Linked DNA regions of Homo sapiens: region 2 is linked to region 1. The links come from fine-mapping of genetic effects on gene expression. A gene starts in region 1. The other region holds a variant in brackets. All regions are shown on one strand. Distances are between the middles of the regions.

Region 1 (15,889 bases):
ATGAGCCTCCCCATTGAGAATGCAAGCAGAGTCATAGTTTTTCAGCATTTCAGGGAACCTGCAGCAGTGATCCAGTTCCTTCAAAGGGTCTGTGGATTCTCTCAGCTTTCCTGTTATGTTCCTGCAGTAGTTCTTGGAGCAAAAGTTCACAATGTGAGAATCCACATGCTGCTCTGTTCATTTGAGCAGGAGCTGCAAGCTAGTCCTGCCCCCTCTTTGCCATTCTAATCCAGGTCTGGAATTTAGATGAAGAGTCATGATTCTCTGTTTTGATGGTTTAAGTCAGGTGTATGTTCACCAAAACTAAAGCTATCTCAGTTATATAGATTAAGCAGGACCTCAGAGTAACACTCAGGTTTTTCCATCCTAAGGACCCTATGATATTTTATAGGTGAGTCACACCTTTATGATAACCATTAGAGGCCTATCAAATAAATAAAATAGATTGATAATGATATAATGATAATTTATAATGATATCATGACAATCACATCCACCTTGATTCTGGTGATTAAATTGCTCCCTTGGCCTCCTCCGCCCTAATAGTCTTTCATTTACATCAAATCTTAGAAACCACTTAAACATCAGTATCTCCCACCTTTATTCTTGGCAAAAGAGGGAAGCCAATGCAGTACTTGGTGTTTTGGTGAAAGCAGGGTCTTTTGGGCCTTCCCAGAAACCAACAGGGAGTTGTTGAGCCAGTCGTCCTGGATAATGCCACTCCAACATCCCCATCTCCACACCTTCTCAGATCCCTGTTATATCACAGCTAGGAATTTTTAACATCTTCATTTATCACAGTTCACTGCATATTTTACATTTACATTAAGATCAGGATTAAGTTAACCAAGTGAACAAATTGCTAGAACTTTTTCCAACTGCTAGTATATTAAAGACAGACTCTCTGATGAGTGACCCCACATTAATAAATTATGCTCCTCTTTCTTCCTTGGTTTAGCAAACTCGAATCCATTCACATACACATATTCCATATTCTCATGCTTCATGCAAATACAATTTAAAAACAGATAAATATTGCTATTCTGTAAGCATGCAGAATTTCCTTTGGGTTGACTTTGTAATTTCCCCCTGCTCCCCAACCTCCTCGGGCTGCTGAAATTTTACTCATGCTATAGACTTAGAGGCCAAGAAAATTGGTAGAAGTGAATGAATGGAAAATACACACAATCTTTCAAGGCAACTACCTCAGATGAGGTAGCTATAGGTAAAGCAATCAGAAAAAAGTGTTTCTGCAGGCATGTAAAGGTCAGCGGAGTTTTGGGATAGTGTGCTAGCCAAAAACTTGTAACTGGTAGAACCTAAATTATACCTGGGGATCCAGCTACAAGGATGTTTGAGAAAGGTGGGCTTTTAGCCATTCAACTTATGCCTACAATAAAACCTCTAGAAAGAGGTCTGAACATATAATGAGCTAGCCATCTGGACTGTATCTGTCAGGTTGGGTAAAGCACTGAAGTTAGTGCCTGGCACACAGCAAGTGCTCAATAAATGTCTGTACTTATTTTATTAAAAGTATCAGCTTAAGTATCACTTCCTTAGGCCATTTCTGTCCTTCTGGACTAGATTAAATTCCCTGGCTATATGCTCCCAAAACTTCTACAGTTTTGAAATTCTTACCTCACTTGTAATTACACTCTGAAACCTCTTTCTTTTATGATGAAACACAAGTTTCATGAAAGCAGGAACCAAGTGTATCTATCTTTTTAAAAATATATACCACTAGGGTATATGGCTAATAACAGGTGTACAATAAATGATAATGAATTAAAAAGTGGAATTGGTAGAGGCTCTGCCTCATTGTCTTCAGTTGTTTTCCTAATAGTATGTTATTGTGTATTAAAGGAATGAAACACAAATGCCATGTTACCTGGTTTCATTGGTATCTTATTAAACTAATGAGGTGCAGGGCTAAGAAAAGTTATTTTAAAAATATATCTAGCTTCTTTCTAGCTACTTGAACTGAAATGTCAACTTAAAATTTCTAAAATGGAGTGTTATAACTTATCTTGTATATTACATGTCAAATAGCCTACGTCTTGGTCCTCGACTATCCTAATTTCACAGAATTCTATCTAATTTGGTGTCTCTAGATGTGTATAGTGTCTTGATGACTTTATTAGATTAATAAATTCTTAGGTCAAATTTTTCATGGTTTCAATTCTACTTTTGTTCTTGCAGTTTTGTCTACATAATCAGCATTTGTTTTACATGACAGTGTGGTCAATATCGAGGAAAGCCTGAAAAGAACGACAGTTAAACTAAGAACCTGTGTTGGAATCCTGGGTCTTATAATTTACTACGGTTAAGAAAATTACCACATTTTGTCAAATCTACAACATTGCTGACAAATCACCAAGAAAGAAAAGATACATCCCAATTTCATGAAGGTTAACATGTGGATTATCTTAGATTGATGAAATACAGTACACTTAGTTCTTTGACCTTCAGCTTTTTCATCTATGTTACTTACCAGCTGCAGTCCTGCCTGCTTCACAGCTATATTCTTCCATCCCTCTTGTCCACTCTCATTCCCTGGGAATGGCTGGAATACCAAGTCTGGACCCCAGGGGACATTTTCCTGCTGGATGCACTTGCCTGCTATTCAGTTAATCTGTCTTGGATGGGCACCTAACCCAAGCTTCTTGGATCATGTTTTTCCCCAGGGATTTCTTTTTCTCTGTATTTTTAAAATATACATTTTTAAATTTTAGAATAGTTTTATGTTTTTAGAAAAGTTGTAATAATAATACAGAGAGTTCCTGTAATCCTTCACCCAATTTGCCCCATGGTTAACATCTTACATTTGTCAAAACATTAACATTGGTTAATTACTATTAACATTAACATTGTTACATTACTATTAATTGAACTCCATATTTCACCAATTGTTTTCATTAATGCCCTCTTTCTGTTCCAGGATACAATTCAAGATACCACAGTGGATTTAGCTGTTGTGTCTTTTTGGTCTCTTTTGTTGTATAATAGTTGCTTAGTTTTTGTTTTTTATGACTTTGACAGTTTTAAGGAGTACTGGTCAGGTATTTTGTAGAATGTCTCTCAATTTGGGTTTATCTGATATTTTCTCATGATTCAACTGGAGTTGTAGGTTTTTGGAAAGAAATCCACAGAGATGAGGTGCCTTTGTCATTACATAATATTAGACAGTAAATGATAGTCACATGACATCACTGGTGATGTTAAGCCTTCATCACTTGGTTAAGATAGTTTCGGCCAGCCTTTTCCACTGTAAAGTTGCTATTCTTCCTTTTCTATATTCTTTGGAAGCAAGCCACCGAGTTCTTTGGAAACTTCTAAACCAAAGCCAATTGAACAGATCCTGTCCTTATTTAATGAAGGGATCCAAGGACTATACAGGCTGTGGAAAAAGCCTGTCTGCAAGGTGGGAAAATAAACCTGCTGATGAGATATGGACAGAATTGTGATGGCATTTCCACCTCCTGAGGCTCAGAGAAGCTCCCTGTCTTATATTTCACTCTACTATTGTGCCAGAAAATTTCCCTTTTCACCTTCACCAGTCTAGGTTGAATTTCTATATGTCCAACCAAAAATAGGCTAAAATACTATATACCTCATTGGATTGCTATGAGAATTAAATAAGTAGTATGCAAAGGAGTGCCTACCACAGAAAGAGACACATAGAAGTACCAATAAATGTTGAATATTATTATTAATATTAGTTGATGCACAGTAGTATTTTGAATCCGTTATAATAAAAACATTGTGGAAATAAACTAATGGTCATAGATTTCTTAGTTATATTTGAGAATCTGAGATCACACATTAAACATACTTGTTATTGTAGCATTGGACTCAAAGAGAAGTGAAACGAGTTGTAGCTTTATCAGGATCTTGCTGCTTCTGCAAGAACTAAGCCACGTTTGTGTTAGATTCAGAGGCAAGAAAAGAGCATCCTGATATTTGAAGTACATAATTATCCACATTCTTCTTTCCTGAGGAAAGGGCCATCAGAGCTAAGTCTTTTAGTCAAGAAGCATCTTTGATTCACAAATACTGTGTGATCCTTAATGTCCCATGACTATTATCTAGAATTGTTTCAGCCTGAAAGTGCAGAGAGAGGGTAGAAATGTGCATTTATATCTTTAGTATATATCATTAATGAATCTGTTGTGACATTTATCTATAGTCATGAAATGAAAAAATAATTGGGGCATAAGTGACTTTGAACTACTACTATTTAGTTCTCCAAATTTAATTTTTTTCACAACGGGAAAATAGCTATCAAGAAGACAAACTTTTAATAGCCCTTTAATGAAACTGTCTTGGTATTTCCTTTTCCCTTAAAAAACTCATTTACAAATTGTTTCACATTTCTACCTTGGTTCTGATTTTCTAAAAGCAAATTTGGTATGAAAGAAGTGCAACAGAAAGACAGGCTAGTGTCCAAGTATCTAAAATGGTTTGCCTCTGTGCAATGGAAGGAGAATATGCTCAGTGGTCAGTGCCAATACCTGGAAGTATACCAGATGCTTGGCAGTGTAGCATAGATCTCAGTGAAGGAATTCAAAGTAAGACAAAGTAAAGGAGAAAAGAACGGACTATACAGAGGTATCCCTACACAAAATGGTGAAAGAAGTAGTGTATATTGCATGTCAGCCTACCTCCAGCATCAGCTCTCTCCATGTTTCCTTGACTCCCTGAAAGCAGATGACTTAGTGCCCACCTCATGCATTCCCCGTTTCAGACTTAAATATTCACTTCCTGTCCTATAATCCCTCAATGCATCAGCAAGCACCTATTTGAGCACTGACGAAGATAAAATACACACAAATATAAATTTGCCATTGCCCCAATCCTCCAGAAACTTGCCGTTTAGTGGGGGAGGAGAAGCAAGTATGTAGATAACTAAAACAAAAAGGCAGTGTGGTGTAGAGAGGGACAAAGAACTACAGAGATGAGAACTAGGAGAAGAAAAGAAGAATAATCTGAGGTGTAGGTTAAGATGTGGTATGTGGGAGGCTGAGACAGGAGAATTATTGGAATCCTGGAGGCAGAGGTTGCAGTGAGCTGAGATAGTGCCACTGCACTTCAGCCTGGGCAACAGAGTGAGACTCCGTTTCAGAGAAAAAAAAAAAAATATGTTTGCTGTGGTGTGACAGAGCTAAGGGAGGAGTTCCTAGAAGACAATGTACAAAGTCATGAGAAGAAGTTCAAGGAAAAGATCCTGGATTTGATAAGTTTAACGTAACTATAGAATGCAGTTTAAATGAGATGACTCATGGATTGCATTGATTTATTCCTAGAATAACAAATATTAAAGGAGGTAACAAACAAATTGCATAAGATAAGTAAAGGGAAAAAAGACAGCCAATTATTCAAATAATTCTAGCATAAGAAATAATACAAAACTATAAGGACAGCAGCATTTCCCCCATCTGTTCATGTTTTGAGGCACAATGGGAAAACCCCCACTTTTTATTATCAAATGGTTTACATAATGATCAAGTACATTAGATCAAAACAAAAAAAATGGGCTTTAATAATATGGAAAACATCCTTTTCCTGCAGAGACAGATTGGGGACTGAAAGCGTCAGTTGGCTGGGTGGCTCATTAGCTGTCTTTAATGAGTGGCACCACCTTGGAAATAACCAGGGCCCTGAAATAAAGATGAAAAGGCAACAAAGAGGGGACTCTCTGTTACCCTTAGGCAGGCAAATCAAAGCAACTGAGCCTAAAAAGAGATGGGAAAAGTTCACTTCAAAGCATTATTATTATCTTGCTCATTTCTGAATAACTGAAACCAACGGACCTCCCAACACACTTGCTGTCCTTTTTTTGTCCATGGGGAAACAGGCCAGTCTATGAGTTTACTGGTTATCCATTATTTCCATCTTGCAAACATCCCCTATTCCTTCTTTTGCTAACCAAATACTTTTTTCCCTTTTGAGAATCTTTCATCCCCAAGAGGATGCAGGTGGTTGATTGTGTGAGCCAGGACAGCCAATAAGAGTACACCTTCAAAGATTGATCTGCTCAACAGAACAAGAGACTTGATTTCTTTGTAAGGTTACAAAATTTGTCAACTGTGTAGGGCTGGCACTATGGACATAATGTGAGGGGAATGAAACCAACACAGGAAGCAATGCCGAAAGCAAGTTAGAGAAAGAGAAAATCATATTCTTCCTAATGTTGTTAAGCCCAGGACAAGCCCTGCTATTTCTAGTACTTCTGAGTTACACGGGTCAATGCATTTTCTCTGCCTAAGTTAGAATTGCATCCCTGTCACTTGTTACTTCGAGTCCTCAATGCAGTACGTTTTTGAGCTACACTTTTCCATAGGACACCAAAGAGACTTTGAAATCAAGATTTTCCCTGTTTCATGATTATGGGTAGTGTGCATGCTGTAGCATGAAGATGTTCAGAGTGCCATACCACCTTAAGAATAATTACTGAAAGAGGAAGAATGAAAGCAACCAGGATGAAAGTAAAGTTTATTTTTCACCTTCCTTCACCACTGATAGAAAGGAATGATTTGTGTTGATAGTCTAAGGAAATTCACATTTTGATCTCCCAATGAATCACCTATGGAAAATTAGAAACATGATGTTGTCATTATAAAGTGGCCCTGGTCCTGCAGATAATATTTGCAGCTTCAGTAAAAAAGTAAAAGATCAAACCTTAATTGATTACTTATTTTGGGGTGCACATGGCACTAAATTGCAAGTGGGGATGGAAGGGCGCAAATATCTTAGGAGGGAGGACATCTTGACCCAAATAGACAGATTCCACTACAGTTCTATGAAAAAATCACATGTACATTACTTAGTAGGGTTAGCAAAGTCTAACTAATTTATAATACTGGGAAAACAAAGTAGCTTTATCACAGAGTCTGAACTGAGATAATTATAAAATACATACCTAGTCTATACATTGCTTGTAGAAGATTCTCAGTAAAATCTTTCTGATAGAATAAAAATTAAACGCTATCAGTTTCAACATAACAGAAAATTTAAGCTGCGAATGCTCGTAAAGAAATTAGGTAAAAATAATGGAGAACAAAACCCGCAATCGGCTTATCAATCGGCTTACTGTTGACACGCCACGCCACTCAGAATAGTATCTAATTTTCTTGATCCCTTATCTCAGGTAAAGCTATTGACTCGGGGAAATAGGTTATGCGGAAACCATGAAAGTTTCTAGTCTGGCCGACCCTAGGTTCAACACTCTATTATTCCAGACAAGCGATGAGCTCCTGTCGCTAAATTTCAACATCCCTGTCTGTCAAATGGGAATAATAATGATTCTCTCATTGGGTGGCTGTGAGAGGTGAGTGAAACAAGACGGAAATTTGACCCAGGAAATATCTGTACCTCTTACTTTAAAGAACAGAATTAAAAAATAATAATAAATGATCAGAAATTAAGGTAGAATAGAGTGAACACTAATAGCGGGAAATAGCTAATTTGCAGGTGAGGTGGCTGAAAGGCTCCTACGCTTGAAGTGTTTGCTGGATGCACAGGAGATCTGGGATACATCCCGAACTCGGCAACAGGACCAGCTCCTTTCCTCAGGGTTACAGAACAGCCAGGTTCCAGTTCAGGTCTGGGAATCTACCCATCCAGAGTTTGCGCCCTTTTCGTTTTGCAATTTAAAACCGGGTTGGAGGGGGAAGGAGTGAAGGCAGCATGCGGAGAAAGTAAATTACAGTTCAGGTGACAGGAACAAGAAAATCTCCAAGGTCAGGGTGGGGTGTCAACGAATTATGCAAAACACTGCGGAATGAGGAGTCACAAACGCCTTGCAAAGAATTCTGAATTTTAGAAGCTCTTTGCAGAACCCCCTTCAGCCCGCTCCAAGCTGCCTTGGGTCCCTTTCTAGGCTGTCAGACTTCGCCTTCCTTTCCTCCTTGTTTTTCCCAGCAACCAAAGCATCTGAAGAACATTTTTTTCCTCCGTAAATCTGAACAAATTTCCTTGCAGCTTTCCTTGCAGAAGCTTTTTTATCGCTTTAACAAAACTTTCCTCTGCTTCTCTAGGGAGAGCCTAGTATTAGAGCTGCCCGACAGGCGGGACCCCGAAATCGGGGCAGCTCTGGCTTAGTCCAGGCTATTCGAGTGGGCGCCTGAACTGGAGGCGCCGTCTCCACCGGGATGGGGATCCTAGTGCAGGCAGACGCCTGGCAGGACTCGGCGAGCTGGGGTCCCCACCGCGGTAGCCAGAGCAGAAACCCGAACCCCAGCCAGAGGGGCCGCGCGCGGGGAGGGGTGCGCGCTAAGCCAGCGTGGCTTCCGCAGGAGCTATTTTTAGCGGTGCGTGCCTCCCCCCGCCCCCGGCGTGGTAGCCTCCGGCTCGCGGCGCCCCACGGCTCCTCTCAGTCTCCCCCGCCGCTGCCGGCTCTTGGTAGCTTCCACGCGGGCAGGTCCGGAAACTGAGCATGTCTGCAAGCGCTCAGCGGCGCCGGCAGCAGCGGGGCTAGAGCTGGGCTGCGTCAGGCTGAGCCCATTCACCTCGCGGCCACAGGAGCTCAGCGCCGGCGCCGCGCCGCCCAGCCCCGCCGAGAGGGGCGCACTCGCCGCCGCGGGGCCCGCCGCCGCTCACCGCAGCCCCCTCCTGGCGACCCGCAAGTAAGTTTGTGAGGCTGCTGGGCGTTAGGGCGAGGGCTTGGCGCCCGGGGGAGTCCAGGAGGGATAGCGAGAGGCGCGGCTGGCGCCCGGGAGAGCCGGCTGGCCTCTGCCCCCTGTGCCTGGCGCCTCTCCGAGCCACTTAGCCAATTTGAAAGCGGGTGGCCATTGGGATGCTCGAGCGGGGACGACGGGCAGAGCAGGAGGGCAGAACTAGCTCCAGCGGGGGCCCAGAGGGCGGACTTGGGAAGAAGGAAAGACCGCGCGGCGAGGGAGGAGACCGGGCGGCGAGGGAGGAGACCGGGCGGGGAGGCTGGGTTTGGGGCGCGGGAGCCCGGCCAGGGACAGCCGCAGAAGGAAAGTGGGGGTGTCGCCGGGGGATAGAGTGGGAGCAGCGTGAGAGCAGTGTTGGGGGCGCAGAGTGGAGGGCAAGCGTGTCTTGAACAGAACGGCAGGAGGATGGGTGGAAAGTGGGGCGCGTGGAAAGCGGATTTGGACGAGAGCAAAGGACGCCGGTGGAAGGGACAGTGGGCTCCGGAGGGGCGAGTGGATTCGGATAATTTGGGGAATCAGTAAAAGGCTAGGGGGCACATCATGATGGAGTCAGCCTGGAATCTGTCTCCCGCTAGAGTACCCGAGGCCACATGTTGGGAACTGGCTGGGGAAAGGATGGATGTAGAAAGTGGCCTGGAGGGCCGACTGGAAAATCGCTGAGGGATTTGGGTGAAGAGGGGGGGAGCTGTGCAGTATCGGGCGGAGGAACTGGGCTGCTGGTAGGGCCTGAAAGGTTCAGGAGAGGGTTGGAGGCTTCCCCGTGCCGCCCCTTGAATAGTGATTTAGTACTGTTATCTGAGGTTCACTTTCACCCCTGGCTCCTCCTCCGTCTACTACCCGGCTTGGACGCACCTCGGCTCGCTGTAGGCGAGCTTTAGGAGATTTAAATAGACATTAGGCAGTGGGGAAGGTAGTCGTTTACGGGGGGAGCTGCTCGGGCTTCCGTTCAGTGGTTCCCGGCACGCTCAGGGTGCAGTGTAGGGTCTGAATGTGTGTATTGCGGGGGTAGGGGGAGTGGTGTCAGTTCTAGGCCACAGGAATTCGTGGTCTGGCCCCAGAGGTGCGGTGTTTTTGGCCGGGAAGTCAGGCAGAAGTCTGCAGCGTGCAACTCGCAGCGGGGCGTGTGTGTGCGTGTGTGCGCGCGCGTGTGCATGTTTCCGGCCCGGGGTCGCGTGTGTGGCTGCAGCCTGTCTCCGTGACAAGAAGATCCAGGGATCTACGGGCGGCACGGGGAAGGGATTAAGGGGAACATACTTCCCTACGTCTTTTCTGCCTCCTTTTCCCAGGGTAGCATTCTTTGCTTATCCAATGATGCCTCTTTCTAACCTCTCCCTCTCCACTTACATCCCAAACCTGATGCGGGTCTTCTCTGATTCGGCACTCTAAGGAGGACTCAGCCGCCGGCTGCGACCACCGTGGACTCCCTCTATGGAAGGGAATCCTGGGAGTCCCGGCCGTCAGAGGGGTTCCCAAATCCAAAGGGTCCATCTCCAAGGCGTCACTCCAGGGGTCCGCGGTTCACTTTGCTGCCCCTTGCAGGTGATGCTGTGATTGTTGCCTGCGGACTGGGAAGCACGATGGCTCCAAAAGGCCAGCGGGGCCGAGAAGCAGGGACAGAGACCAGCATTTAAGGGATCTCTGGTGGGGGCCTCCCTGGAGTTCTCCACATGTAAATATAGCGAAAAAAGAAAACACTACGTTACTAGAATAAACACGTCCTAAAATTTCTGTGCAAAAACACCTTTTTGAACAGCAAAGATTTCACCCACCAAAACAAGGAAGCAAGAAGCTTCCACAGTGTGCAGGATCCGAAACAGGACCGGCCCGGCGTTGGGTGAGAGTGGGGGAGGGGTTGTCGGCTTCTCCATCCAGCTTGCCATGTTCTGTCGTCGGTTTCACATTTTCAGAGAGACTTTACCAGATGCAGGAAATGAGGATGAAGGCAACTCTGGAAGGATGCAAAGAAGGGAGAGCAAGCACTGTACCTACTGTCTGCTGTCTAAGAGGGCTGGTCTCATAACTAAAAGGTCCAGTCCCTGAGATCTTGTGTGCAACCGTCAGAAATAGTTCAGGACATCAAATTGCACAGAGAAGATTCAGATGAAGGGAAACAAGAACTCTGTGGAAAACTGTTGGGGACAGTGGCACGAGTTGTCTTGCAAGGTGATGTCTGTCCCGTGGAGGGACACAAGAGCGAGGACAGCATGGTTCTAATGGCCAGGGCATGTCTTCTTATTCCATGTGACAGTGGCTGGCTGAGTTGCTAGTACGTTTTTGAAATATACCCTTTGAAATATGTTGATTATTCTGGACATCTGTAAGGTGGGAGATTTGAATAAAAAGACTTCTGCTGTCATTATTGGCTTTTATGGCTATGATTTTTTTCAGTCATTATTATAAATCATGTGAAGGTAAAATAAATGATCATTTTAGCCATTCTGTTCTGCACAGAATGCTGTTCAAATAAAACATCATCTGATATGTTTGCCTGTATTGTTTTGTTTGGGGGTCACGGAAGAGGGAAAGTCGGCCAAATTGATTAGGGTATCATATAAAAGCAGAGATTAGGTCCGGGTAGATCTTTTGAGTGTGTGCAGGAAAAGGCTTCATTATAGAATGCTAAATTTAATGTGAGATGAGAGAATCTTTTACTCCCGATCTCCTGCATTTGAAATACAAAGGATTGTACCCTTGGGCTGGTTCCTGGTCCTTAAGTGGAAGCCTAACTGGACACTTTTTTTCTGGAGGATTGTTCCCTAAATCCTGGGAAGCTTTAGAAAATAGTCAATGGAATTTTTGTTGCCCTAAGATAAAGTCATTACAAAGAAAAAAAAAAAAGAAGAAGAAGAAGAAAGTAAAGGTGGTGAAATGGCTTGAGGAGGCAGAATGAGAAATAGAGATGTCAGTCAAAGTGGAAGAAGAGAAATCACTTTCTCTCACTTTAGGGATAGATCTTGTTGATAGGCTTAGAGCAGTGATTCTCCACTGGGGGCAGTTTTACCCCCTAGGGGATACTGACAATGTCTGGAGACATTTTTGGTTGTCACAACTTTGGGGGAGAGGTGCTGCTGGTGTCTTGTGGGCCAGGCCAGGGATGCTGTGAACATTCTACAATAAACTGGACAGCCTTCTGCAATTATCCAGCCCAAATGTCAGTAATGCTTAATTTGAGAAACTTGGCTTTCAATAAGATGTGCTTAACATTAAAAGCAACCCCTTTTAGGATACTTTCAAATATTCCTATTGGAAGTCCATCTTGAAAATCAAGAGTAGTTAATAAGAGACTTTCTTTGCAAAATGGTCCATATTCAAAAACACTTGTTTTAAGGAAATTAAAGAGGCTTCCTTTTGGCAGAACTGTTTTTCAGCCTTTAAAAAACAAACAAACAAAAAATCTTAAGACATATTGAGAATTTCTAAAAGGTGAATCATATGCATATGTGCATGTGAGCTAAGTAAACATTGTTTGATAAAACCAAATCAGAACTATTCTGCTGTACTAATTTCACTGAACTTGTTTGGTAATTGCTTTTTAAAAGCGATAATCTTAATTTTTAATTCAAATGAATTTAATTAAAATTACAACTTGTAAGTTCTTTATCAAGTGAGGGATTGAACAATCAGAGAAAAATGTTAGACAAATATTTATTTGAAACACCCCAAAATATTCCAAAATGAAATCTTAGTATTTATAGGTATCTACATAGAAAGGTAAGAATGTCGTATAATTTTCTCGTATTGTATTTAATTTCCATTTGAAATCGACAGCATGGAGCGTATTGAGAAGCATCAAGCCTTTCGATTCCGTAGCACAATACGTTGCCTAGAAAGGAGGAACAATACCTTACACTCATAAATGTAATAAGATACTGTTCTAATATCCCCTGCATGCAGGAGCTCAGAGCACTTATTAGGTAAAAGCCTTGTCATTAGCACAATGAAGCCTAGTGAAACTAAAATTTGGTCGTTGTATCTACCCCCTCTTCTGTCTCACCATTCCACCCATTTTTGTTATTGGTTTGTTTCAGAATTCATTCTGAAGGTATCATCATTAGGGTTGCTTACTTCCTTTCTTGTTCTAATAACTATTCCAATCACCCTTACCTATTACTGTCCCTCAGGGATTTGTGTCGCAGCAGACTTGATACTCCTGCTAAGACTCTGGGGCACCCAGCAACGCCACCCCCCCCCCGACCCCGCCCTTTCTCCTGTGCATACAAACACAAACAGCTCTTTTCTGCTTCTAGGTGGAATGGGGATTTGTACCTGTCTTGGAAAAAGGCAGTGGGGAGAGCCTTTGTTTTTCACAAAGGCAACCTCAGTTTCTCTGCTTCTATATTTACTGAATTGGTTTGTTCAATTGCATATTCTTGCTATTAGAGAGGCTTCCTCTTTCCCAAGGGAATAGTGAAAGACCTGAGGAAAAGATGACTTCAGTGTAAGCAACACTGGTACTGATAGAATGCACCTGTCATTGGACTACGTGAAAACCCAATAAATATGGTTTGAACCAGTGATAATCATATTTGTAAATTCAATAAGCATTTGTAAACTCAGCAGTAGCAGGTTCTGTTCTAGACACTGGGACTCTTGCACTTGCAATACCCAGATATATCTCTAAAAGTATCTGTACAAAGAAACATAAGATGGGCATTCATTTTCATTGAATTTGGAGCAATTATAGAGATATTTCCCGATTGTTGAAAAGACTTCAGAACATAATTGGTGAGATGCAGAAGGCAGAAGAAATCATTAAAGGGAAAACAGTTACATGGATTTCTGTACAGCCTAGACAAGGAAGAAATGAGAAATTTGAGGTGAAAGGGGTCAGTTCTTGTCTCCCTTTTCCTTTCCTTAGCAAATGATTATTGATTTTGTTTGACATCTGAGCAAGGAGAGGTGGTTTCCTTCCCTGCAGATACTTGTTGAATGGATGTGTGCCCTTTTGCACTTCTGATAGCCACAGTGGTAGAAGACAATGGGCTGGCTGGCACTGGTAGTTAGAGGAAGCAGAATTTCAAATCAGTTTTGTTCTAATGGTGTTTGCAGCAAAGGCTCTAACCACACACTTTCAAAGACTGAACATTCTGTGTCACTATTTTGGGGGGATTAATATAAAGACTACAGAACTGAGCATTTTTGTTATTTTGGGTACTAGGGAATACCTATGCTTTAAAGTATACTTGTTTGGAGAAACCATATTTATTTGGGGGAAAAGGAAATATTGATAAGATGGCAGCTCCATTTACCTAAAAACAAACTTGCTGCTTACTCTGGCATGTCAATTATTGTGCCAGCTGGAAGGAGGGTCATGTGAGAATTTTATCAAACACCTTATGTTGTTCTTGTTGAATTCAGGAGCAACAACAAACACACACACACACACAGAGCAAGATTTTGAAATTTATGCTGTAGCAAAGGCAAAGAGAATATCTTTTTTTAAAATTTCATTTTATCTTATAATTGTTAAAGATAAGTAATAGCAATGCAGGAAAAAGGCAACCTTGTTTGTGGAAGGTTTTACTTTTGTTTACAAATGCTTATTCATCTTAAGAAAAAAAATAGCCTGGAACATTTCCCCAGGCTTTCAGTCTTCTTTATAAATAGTGTATCTCTTCTATCTCTGGATTATTCATTATGTGATGCCGTTTGGAATCTGAATCCTGGGCTCAGATGGCTGATGTGGTTCCTTCTGATTTTGTCATTCAGAATTGTCTCTATCCTCCTAAAGAAGGTGAAAGAGACATGCTGTTTGTCATTGGGGGCACAGTAATAGGTGCAGGCTGTAGTCTGTTTTACAGAATTACATGCATGTTGCTTGACCTTGGTCTGGGACCCCACTGACCAAAACACTGAACTCAGCCTTCTGGATCATGAAGCCTGGTTTTTGCAATTTTGATTTGAACAACAGTGTTTTGACCAGGTTTGACAATCAACTGATGTGTTTGGAAAAGACTGACTGATGAGCCAGAATACTAACCACCCATTTACAAGGAAAGAGGCACAGACATTTAGGGAAGATCAAGAGCTTTGCAGTCAAATCTGGCACTCCTGCTTAGTAGTTTGTGACTTTAGATGAGCTTAACTTTATGGAACTTTTATTTCTTCATCTTTAAAATGAAGATAATTATGAAGTGATTTGCCTGAGGTCAGTAGTCACTCTGCATCATTTCAGCTTAGTTTACAGTTTTCAAAATCTCCATCCAAACCTCTTTCTCAAGAGCATGCTTATTTTCTTGGTTAAATCCATGTTTCTTCTGTTTATTTAAAAATGCTCAAGAACCGATATTTAGCTCAAGAGCTTCTCCTTTCAGCTGTTAGATTCTGTTAGAGGCAAAAAAAAAAAAAAAAAAAGGTAACTGATGGGTCTCTAATTATGTTCAATTCAGGTATTCACCTAAATTGTCAAAAAGATTAAACGCCTTTTTATTTTTTCCTAATTGGGATGAAAATAAGTAGAGCTTTAGGTAAAGATTTCTAAAACCAAACAAAACCATATGCATAATGTCTTTCAACTAGGATGTATTTTTTGATGATCAGAAAATTGAAGATTGGCCCTTGCTGATAATTCTGTTATTAAGTTTATAGATGTTTTTATACCAGTTTAGTGTTGTTGCCATTATGGTTTATTGAAGCATTTCAGATTCAATAAAAATCTGAAAACCTGTTGTATGTTGTTCATTGTAAAATAAATAATGTATGTATTCTTATTTGTAATTTATGGTGACTGATATGCATATGATCAATTGGAATAATGAAAGAGTTAAAATTGGAAACCAGAACAGATGGAAACTTTGAAAGAACATTCTCTTTAGCACCACCCAAGTTTGTATTCAAATCTCTGTTCCTCAGTTATTAGCTACAAAAAAATTGGGCAAATTACTTTCTACCTTACTACTTTTTAAGAATCATATCCACCGGATTATAGGTTATGATTCCTGTGATGATTCGGTGACATAAGCAAGTAAAGATGCTAGCATGATGTCTGGCACCCTCTTTGTCCTTGTACTCTGCTAATTCCACCACACTTCAGCTGTGCCCTTGCAAGTGATCATTTATGCTTGAATTAGTTCCAACTGTTTTACTCTCAAGAATCATAAAGCCTGATCTCAAGTTTCTTGAGGAAAAAAAAGAGAGACATGATTCATGACTGTGTAAGTGGAGCCGGGAGCTCTATGTGACTCTAAGCAGGACCTGATTCAGGGCTCACACCC
Region 2 (15,889 bases), 450 kb after region 1:
GACATAAAACTTAGGAAAACTGCTGCATAGATAGTGAGAAATTGATAAAAAGGTAAGATGTTACATTGAAAGATAAAATGTAGCACCTTTTAAATATGTTAGCTGCCACGTAAAGAATGGCAATTTTAAAAATCATTATATTGAAAATATAATTTCTAGAACCATGGTTATTAACTGGTATATGTTAGCTGAAAGTTATATAATCAATTTTCAAAAACATGTTAATTAAAACCAATAAAACGTAGATATTTGAAATGTGTGTGTGACTCTCAAATACATTTATCAGGGAATGTAACAACTGGCTTTAGTGTAGTAAACAAAACATTGAAAAGGGGAACCTGAGATTTCTAAGATTAGATCATCTGTCTCTCAACACTGTATGTTCCTAGTATCATTTAAAATTTAAGGACATTACATTTCTATTAACTTGGAAAATTGTATATAATGTCTCAAAATAGGCCATTAATAAATTGTTTACTTGTATTTTAGATCATTAGATTATTGTAGGAATGAGGTCAAAGTTGTGTATCTAATTTCCTTTTCCATCACTAGTGTCTTTAAAGAAGAAAAGCTTTATAATATACAACATCTGAACTAGTCAAACACATGCCAAGGAAAATCTTAATTTGGTTTTCTAAAGAACAACCTGACAGAATATAGCCAAATAAAATGTTTAAGTTAATGCCTTCCTGATAGTAGACCTTTTATATTAATATAAAACAATATATTTTGTGTATATTTTAAGTCTTCAAGATTTATCAAGATATTTTACAAATATAATTTTTTAATTCTGGCAGCACAGAATACTAGGTATATTAATAGTCACTTCTCCTAACAGGACAGATCACTTGTATGCCTTCTTCATTCAGTGGAGTCCAGAAATATATGCAGAAGATACTGGCGAATATACCAGAGAACCTGGATTTATAGTAGTAAAAAAGATTGAGGAGTCTGAAACAATTGAGGATTCTAGTAATCAAGCAGCAGCCAGAGAATGGGAGGTAAGGAGAAAAATATGAAGATTTTAGTCATCTTTTTAGTTTGTATGAATTTATAGCTTTATGGTAGTACAAAGTATAAGTGATGTTTCCACAAAAGAGGAATTTTTTTAAAGGTCAGGTTCACTATCCGTGTTTATTTGTGGTTATTGAATGAATCTGAATAGTGACTTTAATACTATATTTGTCATTCTGCTTTTGCTTTAAAATACTAGAAAACCCACTAGCAATAAAATGACTTTTATTGAGTGTCTTATAGAATATTTAGTTTAGGAAAGATTAACATTATGGCAAAGAAGGAAATAATTTTAATTTTGCTGTTATATTAATTTTCATAAAACATCGATTTCACATCTGATTTGTTTTAATTTCATCTCCTCCATGGAGGAGGTACGGCAGTCATTTAACACATCTGTGCATAGTATTTGCATAGCATCTATACAAATTACTACTCCTTTCTATGTTTCAGACCTAAGCATTATCTTGACTTAAATTTTTCAATAATAATTTTAAGGAAATAAGCAGGTGCTAATTTTATAAAGTAGTAGAAATTTTATATGCTCAGATTTACTGAACTTGTTTAAATGGTCAAAGTTATACTAACAAACTTTTTGTAACTCCTCTTAGATATATCTTAAGATTACATATTACCTTTTACATGCTTTGTCTTATAAGGTTGGTAGGGTGGCAATATCTGTTGGTGTTGCCTAGATTAGTCTCTTCTTGATGCATTAGAAAATGTAGAGCAGATGCTAAAATGTTATAATAAATGTAATCAAATTTTTTTATTCATTGGGTGTTAATGTTTGTGGCTGTTAATGTGATATGAATGTATCTTGCATGCACTTAACATGTATAGTAATTGAAGGTATACATGGCTTGTCTTTTGTTTAAAATGCAAACTGATTTGGAATGTGTCTAATGTCATTCTGTGTAGTATATACAGCATCAGTTTCTACTGTGACTCCAATATAAGGGAGGGAAAGAAGAACATATCGACCATGTATTTTGGGTTATTTTAATACTTAAACCAACATTATCAATCTTCATACCAGCTTTATTCATAATGGCCCCAAATTGGAAAGTCTCATTAGCAGGAGAATGGATGAATACATTTTTGAATACTTACAGAATTCCAAATAACAATAAAAAAGATCTACTGGTACAGGCAATGACATGGATGAATTTTACAAATAATATGTTGAGTAAAAGAAGCCTGACACAAATGAACATATACTATGTAATTTCATTTACACGAAGTTCAAAAGGGCAAAACTAGTCAGAAATCCATCACACTACTTGATACTGGGCTGTGACAGGGTGGCTCAGGGACAGGAGGGAACTTTATTGCGTTCTGGGGATGTTCTATATGTTACTCTCAGTGGTGGTTACTTGGGTGATTACATATGTAAAATATATATAATATATATAATACGTATATAATATATATATGTATCTTATATATATATATATTATATACATCTATGTCCCTGAGCTGTGTTTTTAAGATTAGCTTTAGAAGGTACTTAAAATAGCCCAGGTGATCAAAGATACGTACCTAACTAAGGCAGCAACAGTTGAAGGTAGAGTGGAAGGTGATGAAATAAAGCTAGAAGAAAAGGTATTAGCTAGCTAATTACACAGGATTCAGTGACAACCTGGTAACCATAAAGTTATCTCCAGCTTGGGTGGCACGGTGGATGGCAGAATTGTCAGTCATGAACGGGAATTGAGAGCTTTCTCTCCATTGGGGTTGGAGTACTTAACTTTGGAAATAAGAGACTATTGACTATTTTGATTCAAAGGAACTGTCTCAGTTTCTGTGCAAGACTCTGCAGGGTATAATTTCTAAAGGAAAAATAAATCTCCTCACCAGTCCTTTGACCGGAATTGGTGCAGTTCAAAAGAAAATGGAAGAGAAAAAAATAATTTTGGAAACTCCTTGCTACATTGTCTGAAAATATTACCGCAGTATCCAGTATAGCAGCACTAGCCATATGTGGCTATTGAGTACTTGAAATTCATGTAATGCCACTAAGGGACTGCATTTTTAGTTTTAATTATTAATTAAAAACCGATACTTGGTTCCATTATTGGACAATTTTTAAATATATTAGGAATAACTTAGATATATGATCTACTTTTTCAACTGTAAATTTCATGAAATCTAAATATGATCTAAATCAGTCTAAATCTAATTAAGGTCAAGTATTTCCTATGAAAATTTAGTGCCTGAATTGAGATGTGCTGTAGTGTAAAATATTCTACTTCCTATAGCCACTAGCCACATGTAACCATTGAGCATTTAAAATGTGGCCAATCTCAATTGAAATGAGCTGTAGTATAAAATACACACTGGAGGCCGGGCGCGGTGGCTCACGCCTGTAATCCCAGCACTTTGGGAGGCCGAGGCGGGTGGATCATGAGGTCAGGAGATCGAGACCATCCTGGCTAACAAGGTGAAACCCCGTCTCTACTAAAAATACAAAAAATTAGCCGGGCGCGGTGGTGGGTGCCTGTAGTCCCAGCTACTCGGGAGGCTGAGGCAGGAGAATGGCGTGAACCCGGGAAGCGGAGCTTGCAGTGAGCCGAGATTGCGCCACTGCAGTCCGCAGTCCGGCCTGGGCGACAGAGCGAGACTCCGTCTCAAAAAAAAAAAAAAAAAAAAAAAAAAAAAAATACACACTGGATTTTAATGACTTAGAATGGAAAGAAAAAAGAATGTAAACATCTTGTTTGTTTATACTGATTAATATTGAAGTGATAATATTTTGAATACATTAGGTTAAATAAACTATATTAATACAATTAATTTCACTTTTTTAATGTGGTGTCTAGAAAATTTACAATTGTAATGTATCTTACATTATATTGCTCTTGTGCAGTGCAGGTCTATGCCTCATGGATACTAAGTGCCTAAAAAAATGTTTGTTAAACTAGGGAGGCCGAGGGTAACAAATAAAAAATGTTAAACTAGGGTGGATCACGAGGTCAGGAGTTTGAGACCAGCCTGGCCAATATGGTAAAACCCTGTCTCTACTAAAAATACAAAAATTAGCTGGACGTGGTAGCACACGCCTGTAGTCCCAGTTGCTCGGGAGGCTGAGGCAGGAGAATCACTTGAACCTGGGAGGCGGAGATTGCAGTGAGCCAAGATCACACCACTGCACTCCAGCCTGGGCAACAGAGTGAGACTCCATCTCAAAAAAAATAAATAAATAAAATAAAAATGTTTGTTAAACTAATGAGTACTCATTTAAGTGAAAGAGTAATTTTAAATGTTAACATGATTTATTTTAAAACAGGAAGAATTTGGCTAAAGCCCTTATATAAAACAGTAGTACTTCAGAATGTGCCGTGATGTTTTTTATTTTTTTGTTCTACAAAGGAATGGAGAATAGGTGTCCTAGAATTTAGGATGAACTTGTTATGGCTACCAACTTGGGCATCAGTTAGATTTAAACTAACACCTCTACTCACTGTTATTCTGCTTTAGTGATACTTAAAAAAGATCTTTATTATCCCTGACTGTTACTCAAGCAGAAATATATTGCTAGCCAGAAATGTATACATTGACTGGGGAAGTTTGTATATGATAAATTTGGTAAACTTATTGTTTGCTTTTTTCTCCCTTTCCCTATGTAAGTGTCATAAGGCAGGGATTTGTCAATTTCATACACTATTATATCTTCAGAACTAAGAATTGTATAGGCATATAGTTCATTCTCAATATTTATTAATGGATAAACTTGGGCGTAGATTAAAATTAAGGTATAAAGCTTCTAATCTTTCAAGATTGCTCTATTTCCTGAAATAAGTTCTTACATCAGTTGTAGTAAATATTTTCATAAAGCCATAGATTCTGGACATTTTAACTAATAGTCCACAGTCTGTCATTTACATTTTTTTTTGTTCTGTTTAAACATATTCAGTGAAAGGGAATTTGTTACCTCAAAGGGCAATACTTTACATTTTAGGACAGCTCTGTTAGAAAGTTATTTGTTACAATAAGCTTAAGGAAACATATCTTTGTAAATTGGATTCATTTATCTTTATTCTGTCTTCCAATGCAAGTCAATAACAACAAGAAACATTTTCTATTTACTGCGATAGTGTGAAAATGTTTGTCTTCCCTTTTAATCTTGTTTCAGAATTATTTTTTCCAGTACTTCAACTGTTTAACTTTATGAACTCTATTCAGATCTTATTCATATCAGTACCCTAAAATATGTTAAAAGAGTTCATAAACTATGGCACCCCAAATTACTAAAATGTACACTTGGGATAGCAGGAAAAATTCCGTAATATTTTTAAAAATTTTAATTTCCAAATATGAACATTGAAGACCAGTCCTATTGAAGACAGACAGAAACATATATTTACTAAGAAAAAGAAAATTTAGCCAAATTTTAAGGTGGTCAGGAGTAAAAGTTCCTAATGATAAATCAGTTCCTAAGTATTTGGATAAAGGATCTGAGAAATACTATTCTTACTGCTCACGATGTGTAAAGGACTGAATTTCCTCTTTTTGTAGTGTTACTTTGTATGCCACATGATAAAGAGTACTTTGGTGTGGGTCGGGCGTGGTGGCTCACGCCTGTAATCCCAGCACTTTGGGAGGCCGAGACAGGTGGATCACGAGGTCAGGAGATCGAGACCATCCTGGCTAACATGGTGAAACCCCGTCTCTACTAAAAATACAAAAAATTAGCCGGGCGTGGTGGCGGGCGCTTCTTGTTGTAGCTACTCGGGAGGCTGAGGCAGGAGAATGGCGTGAACCTGGGAGGTGGAGCGTGCAGTGAGCCAAGATCATGCCACTGCACTGCAGCCTGGGCGACAGAGCGAGACTCCACCTCAAAAAAAAAAAAAAGGAGCTATGCCTGAATTAATTGCGTCAACATGGCTGCTATTGATAAGAAAGCATGTTTTTAAACAATCAAGGCACAAAATGATTAAGGAAACCTTTCTTCATAGTGAACCAAACTTATGTTTTTGGTGTGATACCCAAATAAAAGAAATATGCATTATGAGTCTTGCTTTTGGGGATCTGATAACCTTATTTGATAACTGAGAAGGAACTACTTATTACAGTCTTTCCCCTGATTTCTGCCGGTATTCAACACAGGAAGTCAATAAGTATATCCAGTGTTGTGAGGATACTGTTTGATGTGGGGCTTTGCAGTTCTGTGATAAATATTACTTTCTGTTTTTTGATACAGATTTTTTATGCCTTTTCACTGAAAAGGGAAGTGCTCTAATGGCATTTTAACAAATTGTCAGGCAAGTCCTGAGGTGAAGATGAGGCAGAATGCCTATTGACATCTGCTATTTCGTGATGATCGCACTTTTGTTCAATAAATATACAAAAATAAAAGATTAATAGTAAAACAAATTCACATGTGCCATTCAGCTTCATCAGCTTATTTCTTCTGTGTCCCTCCTTTTCTCCAATTGTTCATAGTTATTCAAATGTCATAAAAATATTTAGAATACATGTAATATGTACAGTATGTATTTTTACAATTTGTTTTTTGAGTCATGATCCAACTAAGTTCTCAAATGCTGCAGTTAGTTAAAATATCTCTTAAGTCTCTCTAAATGTAGGTTCCTCCTCCATTGCTTTGCTTTGCTTTTTTATTTCAGTTTTTAAGAAATCAGATTTTTTTTCTGTAGAATGTCACACAGTCTGGAATATGCTGTTTGCATCCCCATAGTGTCTGTTAACATGTTATTCTACCACTTGAATGATTGATAGATCTAGAGCAATACACTTAAGTATAGATTATCATCTTTATTTTACAGATAATTTCTTTGTATTTTTTTATTTATTTTATTTTTTTTGAGATGGAGTCTCCGTCTGTCGCTCAGGCTGGAGTGCAGTGGCGTCATCTTGGCTCACTGCAAGCTCCGCCTCCTGGATTCACGCCATTCTCCTGCCTCAGCTTCCCGAGCAGCTGGGACTACAGGCGCCCGCCACCACGCCCGGCTAATTTTTTTGTATTTTTAGTAGAGACGGAGTTTCATCGTGTTAGCTAGGATGGTCTCAATCTCCTGCCCTCATGATCCGCCTGCCTTGGCCTCCCAAAGTGCTGGGATTACAGGCGTGAGCCACCGTGTCTGGCCCAGATAATTTCTTTAAGCTGGTTTTTTATTTGGCTAAAATTCTCTTAGTGGTTAATCTCTAATTCAGAGCCTATACCTTTTCCACCATACCAAGTACTCAACTTTGGCGGAACCTTTGCATCATGATGGGGAGCTTTCAAACATATCATTGCCAAGGTCACAAATCAGACCAATTAAATCAGAATAATTGGGGCTAGGACCTAGTTATCAGTGTTGTTTAAAGCTACCTAGGTAGTTACATTGTGCAGTCAAGGTGCGAAAACTAGTATACCACCATGCCACAACTTCAGGTGTTGTGTTAAACATATACAATATTAAGACTGTGGAAGACTCTTTAGACTATATTGATTATAATATAGATCAGCTTTTGAGTTCCTGTCATGCAAGTTATATGAAATACTTTTCATATTCCTTTCATCTGGGCTGCTGCATCAAAAACATAAATTTGGTTCACTATGGAAAAAGGTTTGTTTAATCATTTTGTGCCTTGATTTTTAAGAAAACATATTTTCTCCTCAGTAACAGCCATGCAGATACAATTGATGTTGTCATAGCTCCCTTACATACCACAGGACTTCCATCATGTTGTGTACTCAGAGATACTACAAG[G/A]AGAGGAAGATCAAAAAACATACCAGGCTGTAAGTCAATGATCTTTGAACTTTGTCTTCTTCAACTTTGTCCATCAAATACCCTTTAAAATTTAATATATTTGGCAAGTGCCTGAGGATCCAGTAGTATAGCTTAAAGGAGTGACCACCACAATAAGCTCAGATTCATGTAAAACTTTTCATTCAGCTTTATAATTTATTTGTTGTAATATAAAGATGAATTTGGAATTTCTTATCATGAAGTCAAAATGGTAATACTGTAAGTTGAATCGCTTTTATCCTGCCATCATTTATCATGAGACATTACATGCTGGACAATATCAGCATCCACCCCAAGTACCAACTTCAAGAGGCTGTATACTAGAATTTTCTGAAAGTCAAGGATTCATTGTGTCACATGTTCAGTATGCCAGTCTTGCTGCTTGACCACACAGGCCTCAAAGGTGGAGCTTTTTATGCTAACATTGCTTTTTGGTTCCTTTCCTTTGGATTGACTTTTCCAGTCCTTTTGGGATAAAAGCTGGCAGAGAAAGCTTTCCAAAATTTTTCATCTCTAATTTTATACCACATGTACTTCAGTATCTTTCATACTACAAACCTAATTAAAGTATCCAGTTCTCCTAGGATGATAAATAAAAACAGCTAAGAAACTGGTTTTATTAAATCAACTTTACTTGATTTATTTAGTCTCCCACACATTTACTTGATTAAATTTTAAGAACGAATTTACTAAGATTATGTGTTGATAGGGTGTGTAACAGTATTTTTCATTCTTAAAATGATTCGTATTTGAATAAAATTGCTCTGGCTTCCCTCTTGCTTCTCACCTTTGCCAAAATACTGATAAAAAGACATTCTGTACAGTTTTGGGGTTTTGAAACAACCTGTATCTTTTTAGGTACATGACATTAGTCACATTTTCTCAATAATTGAAGTTTAGATTATTTAAGTATAAATGTAAATATGTTAACTACTTACTATATAAACCTCTATACTATTATTCAAAATATGTTAGAATCTGCCTTTCAGCTTAGTTTTTAAAATAATTTATAGTCTTTCCATTTTGACTTTAGTATTTAGTGCTGTCCCTTTTAGTTATATAAGTGTAAAATATGTAACCCGTTCTTAGCATTGTAGGCCATAACATTTATCACATTATGTCATTGTTGGATTTGGTTTTTCACTACTATGTGGTGATTGCCTTGTGGAGCCAGTTCTGTTTTCACAGCTATCATTAAGTAGAGTTATGGTCAGGATCATTCATTAGGTTTCCCAGAAAACTTCTACAACCGTGGTTATTGCTGCAACTTTTAAGAAACACCTTATCAGGAGACTTCCCTTGTTTGGTTAATATCTTATTTCCTAAGCTGACAGGCAGTGAGTATTCTGGTGATCATTTTATTAAACATATGTTTTCTATTATTATTAAGGTACAAGTAACACCAAAATTAAAACTGAGTTAATATGTTAAACGCACAAAACCCTCATGATCTCTTCTCAGTCTAGCCAGCAAAATCCACATAGAATTAATTTTGTCCAAAAGTGAAGGAATTCTTTGTGTATAAAGTCACTACATTGAGAAATCACATTTCTCAGATAAAGGGAATTTTTTTAAGTATTCTTTTTTTTTAATACTGATCGAATAATCAAATAATATTACAAATTATAACTCCAGAAGAAATTTAATAAATCTAAAAAAGAAATCAGAAGGATTAAACACTTAATTAGAATTTATTAGTTGATAGGTACTGACTTTCATAATACGGTCATGCAGCACATAATGACATTTTGGTTGGTCCCCTGAGATTATAATGGAGCTGTCTCTTAGTGATGTCATAACATCATAGTACAATGCATTACCCTCTCTATGTTTAGATATATTTTGATACACAAATCCTTATCACTGTGTTACAGTCACCTATAGTATTCAGTACAGTAACGTGCTATATGGTATGACCTAGAAGTAATAGGCCATACCGTATAACCTGGTTATATGGTAGGCTATTCCATTTAGGTTTGTGTAAGTACACACTGTGATGTTCACAAAACGAAATTGCTTAAAGATGCATTTCTCAGAACATATCCCTGTCATTATGTGATATATGACTATATTTCTATGTTGAGAACCTGTATAGTTACAAATGAAACTTTTAGACTGTTTATGTTTTCTTTTATTAGCATTTGGCACCCAGGTTTTATGCCTAATATGGTCTGTTTTGACTACTGATTATGTTATCTTAAAGTTGTTATCGACCTTAGGAGAGTTTTGAACTAGTGTTTTGCTTTCCCTGTTAAAAATATTCTTCAATTGCTAGCCCAAAGTTATGAGCTATAACATTTCCATTAAAAATCTTTATCTAGGCCAGGCGTGGTGGCTCACACCTGTAATCCCAGCATTTTGGGAGGTCAAGGCAAGCAGATTACCTGAGGTCAGGAGTTCGAGACCAGCCTGGCCAATATGGTGAAATCCCATCTCTATTAAAAATACAAAAATTAGGCCAGGTGCGGTGGCTCATGCGTGTAATCCCAGCACTTTGGGAGGCCGAGGCAGGTGGATCATGAGGTCAGGAGATCGAGACCATCCTCGCTAACACGGTGAAACCCCGTCTCTACTAAAAATATAAAATAAAATACAATAGCCAGGTGTGGTGGTGGATGCCTGTAGTCCCAGCTACTCAGGAGGCTGAGGCAGGAGAATGGCATGAACCCAGGAGGCGAACCTTGCAGTGAGCCGAGATCGTGCCACTGCACTCCAGCCTGGGCGACAGAGCAAGCCTCTGTCTCAAAAAAAAAAAAAAAAATACAAAAATTAGCCGGGCGTGGTGGCGCACACCTGTGATCCCAGCTACTCAGGACTCTGAGGCAGGATAATCACTTGAACCCAGGAGGCGGAGGTTACAGTGAGCAGAGATCATGTCATTGTACTCCAGCCTGGGCAACAGAGCAATACTCCATCTCAAAACAAAAAACAAACAAACAAAAAACCTCTAATATAGACTGTCAGAAGAGGATTTATGGGTGACAGACTAGTTTATGATTTTAAATATTAAAATTCTAAAATATTACTTTATTTTTAAATTTATTATTATTTTTTGAGAAAGGGTCTTGCTGTGTTGCCCAGGCTGGAATGCAATGGCACACTCACAGCTCACTGCATCCTCGAACTCCTGGGCTCAAGAGGTCCTCCTGCCTCATCCTCCTCAGTAGATGGGACTACAGGTATGTGCCACCTCATCCAGCTAATTTTTTTTTTTTAGAGATAGAGTCTTGCTGTGTTGCCCACGCTGGTCTCAATCTTCTAGGCTCAAGTAATCCTCCTGCCTCAGCCTCCCAAAGCACTGGGATTACAGCCACCTCACCTGGCATAAAATAATAAATAGTGAGTAGGGTAAATTATATATTATAGCTTCTATCATACCATTCCCAACTCAAATAGGAAGAGATATAAGGTAATTTAATAACTTCAGTTCGAATAAAGTAAAGGAAAAGGATTATTAAATTGAATATCTGAATTATGAGAACAGATTATGTTCAACTTGTAAACTGGTAGTGTTTTCAAAAGTGCTTTGTTTTATATCCCATCATGTTATAATAATAACAATTGACATCTGCTTCAAATTCTTGGATATCTAGGCAAATTTAAATGACTTAGCAATATGTATTATAAATACTACAAAAACAGAAAGGGCAAGAAGGAGACTTACTGAGCTCATTTTATGTTTGCCTGACACTGTATTTATAAATTTGGATGACTTCGAGAAACAGAAAACCACACTCAGAATAGCTTAAACCTGTTGTTTCTCGAAGTGTAGTTCCCAGACCATCAGCAGCAGCAGCACCTGGGAATTTGTTAGAAATGCAAATTCTCAGACCCCATTTGAGTCTGATTAATTAGAAACCATTTTTGGAGCCCAGCATTCTGGTATAACAAATACTCCAGGTGATATTGATGCCGGCTAAAACTTGAAAGCCACTGATTTAGGTCTCTAATGACTAGTTCTGTCCAGAGATGAGAGCCAGCCTCCTCAGAAACACATGGCTGGAAGGATACCTGAGCAAAATCAAGGCCACTTCAGGAAGGAGTTGTAAGGGTGGATATTGAATAGGCAACCAACAGAATAGACTATGCCATGCTTGGTGGTTTTTGGTTTTGTTTTTAATATCTCATTTAAACCTCATTTTGGAACACACGTCATATTTGTTATTTTAGAAAATGTAGCTGGAAGTTATGACAAGCTTTCAAAATGCTGCTTCCACCACCACCACCACCAAATTATATAATATTGCTGATGGTTGTTAGGAGAGTCTGTGATGGAGGGGTGGAGTGTGACCACAATGCACTGTATGTAGAAGAGAACTTTCCTGGTGTGAAGATAATGATGGTGTTCCTATGAGGGACTGTGGGAGAGATTTTAGGGTAAATGTAGTGGGGCTGAATGAGAGGAATAGGGGAAATGGTTGGTATGTGGGGGAGGTAGGGTGTTACTGTGGGGTGTGCTGTGCCCTGTGTGAGTGCATGCTGGAATGTGGAGGAAGGAGATGGGAGTGGGGGTTTGGTTGGGATGCAGTATTGCGTGTTAGAAAGGTAGTGTGTGTGTGAAAAGGTGGCATCATGTGTGCATACAACAAAGTGAAGTGGAAGGAGCTGCTTTACCTTAAAATGGAAGAAATTTTCAAATGTATCATCATGATATTGATATTCTGATTAAAACTGAATTCTAGATAGTTTTAGTTTATATGTATTTGTAGTTTATATTTAATCTTTAAAAAATTCACTTCTTTGCTTATATTCAAAATATCACTGGTTAGTGAAGTATATGTAGGCATAGTGAATATAACTACCTTTTCAAGAAATTAGATGTTAGAAAATGCAATTTAAAAACAGACTGTGTAACAGGCAGAGGGATTTTCAGGTCACTTTGAATATTTGTGTAGGATTTATTTGTAGCATATTGGCTTGGTTTTTACACAGTCATTCTGTAAAATTTTAGGGTGGAAGAGTCCACAAAAGGCATCTTATTGCTTAAAAAATGTTCACATAAAAGATACAATCTTATAGTACTGTTAGCTGTAAGTAAGGAACATAATTTTATGACTATATGAACAAATAACAAAATGTTCATTCAAATCATTCATGTGCTTTAAGAGACTCTGGAAATTATATTTACTACTTTTTTGTTACTGGGTTACTTTTAGTATATTCATGTACTGATGTTTGGAAATATAGGCTCTGTGTCTTTAAACTTTTGAGCCCTTTCTTTGCACATTTGGGTACAGTGCAACCAAACTTAAGCATGGGAAATTCTCTCTTCCCTCCCCAGCTTTACAGCCTCCACTCAGGACTATCATTGCTATGGATACTACTTAGTGATTAGCTCTCTCTCTTGTCAATCAAATCTTTGTCTCTAGCAAACTGTTTTGTCACTGTAGTAAGGCTCTAGTGCTGGAAATTTATCTTTGACAGAGGAAGAATGCTTTTGAAAACAGTTCTTACGTGATTTTATGTAACTTAATTTGCCCTGGAAAGGAAATGTCTCGTCTCTGGTATGGGAAAAAAGGGAGAAGACATCAACCAATTAATCATAAATACACTCTGGTAAATCTTAGTCAATTATTTTAATTTGTATATATACTAGTCTTTTCATGGTGACATTATGAAAAATTATACAATTTCTGAAAGTTTAAGCATAGAGGATATTTATAGAATACAAAATTTTATGATTGTACAAAGTACCTTGAAGTTGTTTCTGTTAATTCTGAGTATCTTCAAAAAGGGAAATTAATAAGGGACTGTAATTTTGTTTCATATTAAGTGTTTTGTATGTTCTACACCAACAGGAAGATATCAAATCTTAATTGTTGCCTTAATGTTTTTTATTTTAGCTTAACTTTTTAGAAAAATATTCAGAATTTTCTCTTGCTTGAAAATAAATTGAATAGAACAGAGTAAATTAATTATTATTGACTGGATCTCAAACCAGATTCTTTTATGATATTGTTTACTTAAGGGTATAATTTTAAGAATCTGACTAAAAGGTTTTTTAAGCTGTTCAAAAAGTTTTCAGGCAATGCTACCTAATACAAATCTTCAAACGATATCCTAGTAAGGAAATTCAGTCAACCATACTATTGTAAGAATTTTATTTATTTTTCTGTACGTGTACATTGTTATAAAATGTATTGTCCATTGCTCTTTCTGTGGTAATTTGGGATTATATTTTGCTTATGAATGTTTATTTTATTTTCACTTAATTGTAGATGATTTAAAATCCAATAAGGACTTTGGAAGATGCCCCCAAAGCAGCTTGCCGCCCTTAAATGTTAAGTGTGTCAAAATATTAAAATTTTAATAGGTGTTATTTTTAATTGTAATTTCAAAATTCATTTATATGTTACATCAGCACAGAGGGATTTAGGCACCTGAAATGATTGAATTTTTAAAATTTGTGATTAGATTTACCAGATAAATCAGTTAACACCGTTGTTTTTTTTTTAAACCAAGAACAATGAAGCTATTCATACATTTTTTTTATTTGAAGTTTGAATAATCATTTATTCTTAGTTTGCAAAGACTTCAATACAGTTTATTACAAATACAAGCAAAATAAATTGTGGTTATTCTGAAATTTATAGGTCAATCTAATTAATGTGCATCAAACACTTACATTTATTACAGTCACCACGTCCAAGGCCTGTTCATTCTTTATTTTTATTTTTATTTTTGAGACAGGGTCTCACTTTGTCACCCAGGTTGGAATGCAGTGGCGGGATTTTGGCTCACTTCAACCTGGGCTCCTGGGCTCAAGTGATCTTCCTGCCTCAGCCCGGCAAGTAGCTGGGACTGCAAGCATGCACCACCACAGCCCGCTAATTTTTTTGTATTTTTTATAGAGACTAGGTTTCGCCTTGTTGCCCAGGCTGGACTTGAACTCCTGAGCTCAGCTCAGGAGATCTACCTGCCTTGGCCTCCCATAGTGTTAGGATTCCAGGCCACTGCGCCCAGCCAAGTTCTGTTCATTCTTATGGGAGGCTATATAATTTTGTCAGATACTTTATTTCATGCCTGAGCAAGAATGCTTCCTACTCATTGGTCATTAGCTCTGCCCATACATATATGTTATTTAATTGAACCCTCACAGTAACCCTGAAAGTTTAGTAGAATTATTTCCCATTTTGAAGACTAGTTGAAGCATGGAGTGGTCACTGAACTAAGTTGTCATGTAGTACAGAGACAGCTTGACCCTAGCACATATTGTAGTTCACCAGGATGACTTTGAAGTTTTTCTGAAATAGAACAATATGATGTGTTTTGTTGTGTAGACAAGCTGAAGTCCCAGTTTTCTAGTTGTTTTCTTTGTTTTAAAGCAGAGATTCTAGGAGCTGTAGGGCAGGCAGCTCTTAAGAAAATTGGGATGAAAAGGATTAGCAGTTCTTTTACCTGCTTTGTAGATTGAGAGCCCTGTAAGATTTTGCCTGACAAGGGGCTCTTATGCTTCTAAACTGGAAAAAAAAAAAAAAAAAAAAAAAATTCTAAGAGAATAACCAGTATTTCAGAACAAATGAAATTTGACTTTTTGGAGTTTATAATGTGTAGCTTTTTAGAATTCTTCGTCTTTACCCAACAAATAATATGGCCATATTATTACTACCTCTGTAAGAGAGATTATCACTGAGGTATCTATAGATACCTTGACAGTTTTCCAAATGCCTATGTATGTAGTATCACATGACCTTACAGTAACCCTGTGTGTTAACCAGATTGTTTTGTTTTATAAGTGAGTTAATTTACATCTCAAATACATTAATAACTAATAAGCAGCATACACTCCTAACAAAATGCATGGCATGAAATTAACCTTTTGCCAGTTAGCTTCGATGAGAACCATATTGATCAAGCATGCTTAAGTTTTGTTATCTTTTATTTTTTAAAGGCCGTTTTATAGTTTATTCTGATAACTTAAACTTTAATCATTCATTTATTTGAAGCTATTCATGTATTTGATATATTCATGTGCCATACTCTACCTTGTTAGTGTCTGTCAATAAGTCGTAATTTACTTGAAATTATAAGCCCATTTTATAATAAGGATTTAGTCTTAATCAAAGTCACAAGTCATTAAATAGCATCAGTGTTTCATTGCCTTTATCAGTAGTCACTAA

The links.
Region 2: its variant is fine-mapped to the expression of OXR1 in whole blood (TOPMed, PIP above 0.99).

The regions. Positions count from the first base shown.
Region 1 is chr8:106,261,744-106,277,632 of GRCh38, forward strand. OXR1 (oxidation resistance 1) reads left to right here and starts at 8,447. Exons shown (of 17, transcript NM_001198533.2): 1 at 8,447-8,624. RefSeq lists silencers at 8,172-8,421, 8,442-8,801.
Region 2 is chr8:106,712,985-106,728,873 of GRCh38, forward strand. OXR1 (oxidation resistance 1) reads left to right here. Exons shown (of 17, transcript NM_001198533.2): 11 at 839-1,001. Among named protein-coding and RNA genes, the nearest start is that of ABRA, 49 kb to the right of the region's middle. The variant G/A (reference allele first, on the strand shown) is at 7,731.